2 linked regions of the Homo sapiens genome follow. The protein of the gene in region 2 interacts with the protein of the main gene of each other region in a pairwise test. Each region holds a gene or a part of one and is shown on either strand. Other genes may lie near its edges.

Evidence for each region.
Region 1: the proteins of SET (region 2) and TAF1C interact in binary tests that used the Homo sapiens proteins (3 or more experiments, as listed by UniProt).

Annotation. Positions count from the first base shown.
Region 1 is NC_000016.10:84,180,649-84,184,155, reverse strand, and holds part of TAF1C (TATA box-binding protein-associated factor RNA polymerase I subunit C), read left to right. Parts: intron 1-377; coding exon 378-459; intron 460-648; coding exon 649-746; intron 747-822; coding exon 823-912; intron 913-1,006; coding exon 1,007-1,080; intron 1,081-1,715; coding exon 1,716-1,954; intron 1,955-2,097; coding exon 2,098-2,214; coding exon of another isoform or gene 2,215-2,292; coding exon 2,293-2,410; intron 2,411-2,492; coding exon 2,493-2,564; exon of another isoform or gene 2,565-2,692; coding exon 2,693-2,828; intron 2,829-2,969; coding exon 2,970-3,113; intron 3,114-3,160; exon of another isoform or gene 3,161-3,288; intron 3,289-3,507. UniProt on the Homo sapiens protein: Component of the transcription factor SL1/TIF-IB complex, which is involved in the assembly of the PIC (pre-initiation complex) during RNA polymerase I-dependent transcription.
Region 2 is NC_000009.12:128,692,221-128,694,713, forward strand, and holds part of SET (protein SET), read left to right. Parts: intron 1-441; coding exon 442-545; intron 546-647; coding exon 648-761; intron 762-1,417; coding exon 1,418-1,588; intron 1,589-1,675; coding exon 1,676-1,822; intron 1,823-2,420; coding exon 2,421-2,444; 3' UTR 2,445-2,493. UniProt on the Homo sapiens protein: Multitasking protein, involved in apoptosis, transcription, nucleosome assembly and histone chaperoning. Isoform 2 anti-apoptotic activity is mediated by inhibition of the GZMA-activated DNase, NME1.

The sequences.
Region 1 (3,507 bases), on a different chromosome or scaffold from region 2:
AGCCGCCTGCCGGGCTCCCAGAGTGACTGCAAGGTCTCCTGAATGGAAGTGAGGTTACGTGAGATGTGGACCAGCCACTGGTGGCATGAGGGGCTTCCTTCTTTGAGAGCCAGCACAGGTGGAGGTCGGAAACAGGAGCTCTGGGGTCAGGCTGCCTGGGTTCACATCCCAGCTCTTCTCTTTACCGGCTCTGTCTTCTGGGGCAAATGGCAGTGTGCCTCAGTTTCTTCAGCAGTAAAATGACAATGCCAGTCATCCCAGCTTCGCAGGATTGTTGTGAGGATTGGATGAGTTGATAAGAGATGAATGCCTGTGCACAGCCTGGCCCAGGGAGGGCATTCATCATGATACTGTCCTTGCGATTGTCCTCCCTTCAGAATGGGGCACTGCATGTGACCAAGGACCTGCTGTGGGAGCCGGCAACCCCTGGGCCTCTCCCCATGCTGCCTCCCCTCATCGGTAAGGGTCTCATTCCCCCGGGCTCACTCCACACTGCTCCACCTATTCTTCCCACTGCTCCCGCTCCTGAGACCTTCCTCTCCCTGCTAAGCCTGTGCCTGCTCAGGACCCTTGGATACCTCCAGTCGCCCAGGGCATCTGGCCGCACTCCTGTGCCCTCCCCAGCCCTTTCCGTAACCTCCTTCTCAGATCCCTGGGACCCTGGCCTGACTGCCCGGGACCTGCTTTTCCGCGGAGGGTGCCGGTATCGGAAGCGGCCCCGAGTCGTGCTGGATGTGACTGAGCAGGTGAGTGGGCCCACGGGGGACAGTGCTGCGTAGCCTGGAGACTGTGCTTAGTGACCTGGCCTCCTCTTCTCCCCAGATCAGCCGGTTCCTCTTGGATCATGGAGACGTAGCCTTTGCGCCCCTGGGGAAGCTGATGCTGGAGAATTTCAAGCTGGAGGGAGCGGGGGTGAGTGGCCCGTGACTCCAGGGGTGGGGACTCCCTGCTGTCCTTCAGGGGTGAACTCGAGGGTGTGTGAGCCTGACAAGGCCTTTCCATGCAGAGCCGCACTAAGAAGAAGACAGTGGTCAGTGTGAAGAAGCTGCTCCAGGACCTCGGTGGACACCAGCCCTGGGGGCAAGTGGCTGATGAGAAAGGAGGAGATGGATAGGCATAGCTGGTGGTGGGGATGTAGGAGGTGCTAGGACGCACGTACAGCTTTCCGTCATACCCACTTCCCCCCTGCTCCATGCAGTCTGAGCTGTACTTTCTTATACCAGACTTCCAACTCCAAATCATCTCAGGGGAAAGCAGATTTACATTTGTGGAGTTCAGGCACAGCTGCATCCAGGTGTTCAAATAATGTTCATAGAGCTGTGTCTCTCTTTCCTGTCTCGTCCACTTGCCTCTCCCTGCACAGTTCCCTAGACAGGCTGTCTCTAGGTAGCAGCAAGATGGCTTATGATCTAAGGAAAGAGCCAGTGTCCTTCCTGCGGCACCAGAAGTCCCAGAAAGGACTTTGGTTGGCTTGGCTTGGGTCTCACACCCATCTGTGAACCAGTCACTGTGGCAAGGGCAATGGAATATTGTTGGTGGCCAGGTCTGGGTCACATGATTGCTTCCGGGGCATGGGAACAGGATGGGGTGGTCTCCCAAAGGAAGAAATTCTAGGTAAATAAGAAATGTGTCCACTGCACTTGGCCTCCTTGGGATGGGACCTGTCCTCCCCTGAGTGCCACCGAGTGATCCTCCTGCTGTTCTCTGGTCCCCAGGTGTCCCTGGGCTTACCTCAGCAACCGACAGCGCCGCTTCTCTATCCTCGGGGGCCCCATCCTGGGCACGTCGGTGGCGAGCCACTTGGCAGAGCTGCTGCACGAGGAGCTGGTGCTGCGGTGGGAGCAGCTGCTTCTGGATGAGGCCTGCACTGGGGGCGCGCTGGCCTGGGTTCCTGGAAGGACACCCCAGTTCGGGCAGCTGGTCTACCCTGCTGGAGGCGCCCAGGACAGGCTGCGTATCCTTTCTTGCGAGACAGGAGATTCCAGCGGGCTCGCCTCTGGTAGAGGAGGTGCTCTTGGCATGGTCCAGAGAAGGGCAGGAATTTGGGGGGCTTGCAGTGATCATAGCTCGTGCACTGATCCTTAGTGAGAGGCCCAGATTTCCAAGAGGTCGTTCTGACCCCAGGTGACAATCCCCAATTCCTTGGGAAACCTGGACGCATCCAGCTCCAGGGACCTGTCCGGCAAGTGGTGACATGCACCGTCCAGGGAGAAAGTAAGGCCCTTATATACACTTTCCTCCCTCACTGGCTGACCTGCTACCTGACCCCTGGCCCTTTCCATCCCTCCTCAGCTCTGCTGGCCGTCCGCTCTGACTACCACTGTGCCGTGTGGAAGTTTGGTAAACAGTGGCAGCCAACCCTTCTGCAGGCAATGCAGGTGGAGAAAGGGGCCACGGGGATCAGCCTCAGGTGAGGGGGGTCAGGTTGGTCGGTGAGGAGGGGCTGGAGGCAGGGCTGAGCAGCCCGATGTGAATGCATTCCTGCCCTGTAGCCCTCACCTGCCCGGGGAGCTGGCCATCTGCAGCCGCTCGGGAGCCGTCTGCCTGTGGAGCCCTGAGGATGGGTATCGCCGCTTCCTGTGAAACCCCCCACCCTAACGAACTGAACTCCGCCCTGTTGAGCATGTCGCGACCCTTGAGCCCCTTCCCCATCAGCCTGTCCCCCTGCCCACGGCTTGCCTGTCTCCCCAAGGCTGCGGCAAATCTACAGGGACCCTGAGACCCTCGTGTTCCGGGACTCCTCTTCGTGGCGTTGGGCAGACTTCACTGCGCACCCTCGGGTGCTGACCGTGGGTGACCGCACCGGAGTGAAGATGCTGGACACTCAGGTACGGGCTGGCGGCAGAGGACCCACCCCGACTGCGGGAGCGGCCGCAGAGCGGTGAGTCCCAGGCTGGCTGCGGCCTGGGCGAGGACAGCGTCACCGGCCTGGGACTGTGGGGAGGGCTGACCCTGTGTTTATCTTCCAGGGCCCGCCGGGCTGTGGTCTGTTGCTTTTTCGTTTGGGGGCAGAGGCTTCGTGCCAGAAAGGGGAACGTGTCCTGCTTACCCAGTACCTGGGGCACTCCAGCCCCAAATGCCTCCCCCCTACTCTTCATCTCGTCTGTACCCAGGTGAGTGGCACACAACACCGCCCCGCCCCACCTCTGCTCTGTCTCAGATGGTCACTAGAGGCTGCTGCTTACCAGCGGCTCTGCTGGGCCCAGACAACCACCCAGCAAACCAAACTCAACCCTGGATGAATCTGTGGCCCAAACACGCAGTGGATCCCACAGTCGGTGCTAACAGGCAGGTGGGGAAGCTCTCCCAGGGCCTCCCCTTAGTAGAGCTTCGAGGTGCAGCCAGGGGTGGAGCAGGGGAGGAGGGGCCTCGGGGTGGGGCTTCCGTGCAGAGCTGGAGAGTTTCTGCTGTGCAGGAGGCGGGGGCTCTGAGGAAGCAGGTCTGTCCTCCACCCGCCCTCCCGGGGACATTCGTAGGCGTGCCTCGAGCACAGGCTCCCGGGTCAGG
Region 2 (2,493 bases):
TACTAAAAATACAAAAAAAATTAGCTGGGCGTGGTGGCGCGCGCTTGTAATCCCAGCTACTCGCTACTTGGGAGGCTGAGGCAGGAGAATCGCTTGAACCCAGGAGGGGGAGGTTGCAGTGAGCCGAGATTGTGCGCTTTTGCATTCCAGCCTGGGCGACAAGAGTGAGACTGTTTCAAAAAAAAAAAAAAAAAAAAAAAAACCTCAAAGACGGGAAAAGATATACAGCTACTGCTTTCTATTCTGTTTAGGAGAAGCTATATTCTAATTGCTTGATGAAAGATAGTGACAGTCTGATATTGAGCAATTGCCTTTAGTTAATAATGGGTTTATAAAACCAAAGATGCTCACTAAGTTCGGAAAAATTTTAAAGGGATCACTTAAATTGTTGTTAGTGTGTGCCTGTTGAAAATTCAGCTGACCTGTAATTTTCTGGCCTAGTGTCTGCACTGCTTGGGGAGGAAGATGAAGAGGCACTGCATTATTTGACCAGAGTTGAAGTGACAGAATTTGAAGATATTAAATCAGGTTACAGAATAGATTTTGTAAGTATCTCTAACTTAATCTTGTTTGCCACTGTGGAAATTAATGTGAGCTTTGGTTGGAAGACCTGTTCATATTTCTAATCTTTCAATTATTTATTACAGTATTTTGATGAAAATCCTTACTTTGAAAATAAAGTTCTCTCCAAAGAATTTCATCTGAATGAGAGTGGTGATCCATCTTCGAAGTCCACCGAAATCAAATGGAAATCTGGAAAGGTATGTTTTGAGGAATTATTTGACAAAAATAGCATTTTGCCTATTTCAGTTTAGTTTTAACCACTTACAAGTGCTTGATACTTTGGTCATGTGGCTAAATACAAAACCTTAAAATATAAAACGTTCCAGTGTGCTGAAGCCAAGTATTACAGTAGTTTAGGGTTCTCATTAGATACTACAGATGTAGGCAGGAAGATCTCTTGAGCCTAGGAGTTTACCCTGGGCAACATAGACCCTTACCTTCCAAAAAACAAAAAAAAAGAGAAAAATCTAGCCCAAGTTTAAGAATTGAGAACTGGACTAAATTTTTTGTTGCTGTTGTTTTCTGCAGTGGTGACTGAGCTCTTCAAATGGCTTGCCATTTCTCAAAATCATTTACATCCGTATTTAGGTAGTAAGACATAGTTTAGATATTTATACTGTGTTGTGCTAGTGGCTGTTAACAGTGGAACTAATTTTATGGAAAACCAAATGTAGTTGATACTACCTCTACCTGCTGCACAGTTTTATAATTGCTCTTAGGTAATAATGGTAGCGTAGATAGTATACTGATATTTGTTTTGCTTAGCTTTTGGGGAAAATCTTATTTTTTAAATTATAGGGAGTTTGGGTGTTATGGAGAGATTGTATCAAAAGCTCTTCCGGTATTCATTTAGGATTTGACGAAACGTTCGAGTCAAACGCAGAATAAAGCCAGCAGGAAGAGGCAGCATGAGGAACCAGAGAGCTTCTTTACCTGGTTTACTGACCATTCTGATGCAGGTGCTGATGAGTTAGGAGAGGTCATCAAAGATGATATTTGGCCAAACCCATTACAGTACTACTTGGTGAGTTCTAATACTCATTTATTCAAGGTTGGACTTGTCTCGGTTGTTTAAAAATGAGTCCTTATATTGTGCTTTTTTTTTTTTAAGGTTCCCGATATGGATGATGAAGAAGGAGAAGGAGAAGAAGATGATGATGATGATGAAGAGGAGGAAGGATTAGAAGATATTGACGAAGAAGGGGATGAGGATGAAGGTGAAGAAGATGAAGATGATGATGAAGGGGAGGAAGGAGAGGTAAAAGAAAATTTGGCTAAACCCACAAAGATAACTTTTAAAGAATTCATGTTATTTTGGGGTGTATATATATATATATAGTGTGGTAGAACTGACCAGAACTGATTGTGGAAAAAAAGTAAGCCATTTTGTTGTTCAAGAATTAAGGAAATGTTTGATAAGCACATGGTACTAATGTTTAACTAGGTTTTTTTTGGTTTTTTTTTGGGTTTTTTTGGTTAGACTTATCACCACCCAAGCTTGTTTTTCCCTAGCCAGTACTTAGGCAATATAGGCAGTGTAGCTGGTCAAATTCTGACATCTCTGAAATAACAAAGTTTCATGTATTTTCGACAAACTGCACAATTTCTGAATAGTCAAATTAGGATAGGTTGGTTTTATTTCGGATTATTTGATCCGAAATATACCTGATTTGGTTAGAACTGAAGTTACTAATTAATCTGAAGCAACATCATCACGGGTGTTTCCTTCGATGCAGCTGACTTACAGGTTTAGAAACTGGAGTGCCCCCAGGGGCACTCGTGGGGTCCATTGTGGTCCATATGAAAGCAAGTCTCAGCATTAATCCTGAAGATTAACTGCCCACTTTTTCTTTCAGGAGGATGAAGGAGAAGATGACTAAATAGAACACTGATGGATTCCAACCTTCCTTTTTTTAAATTTTCTCCAGT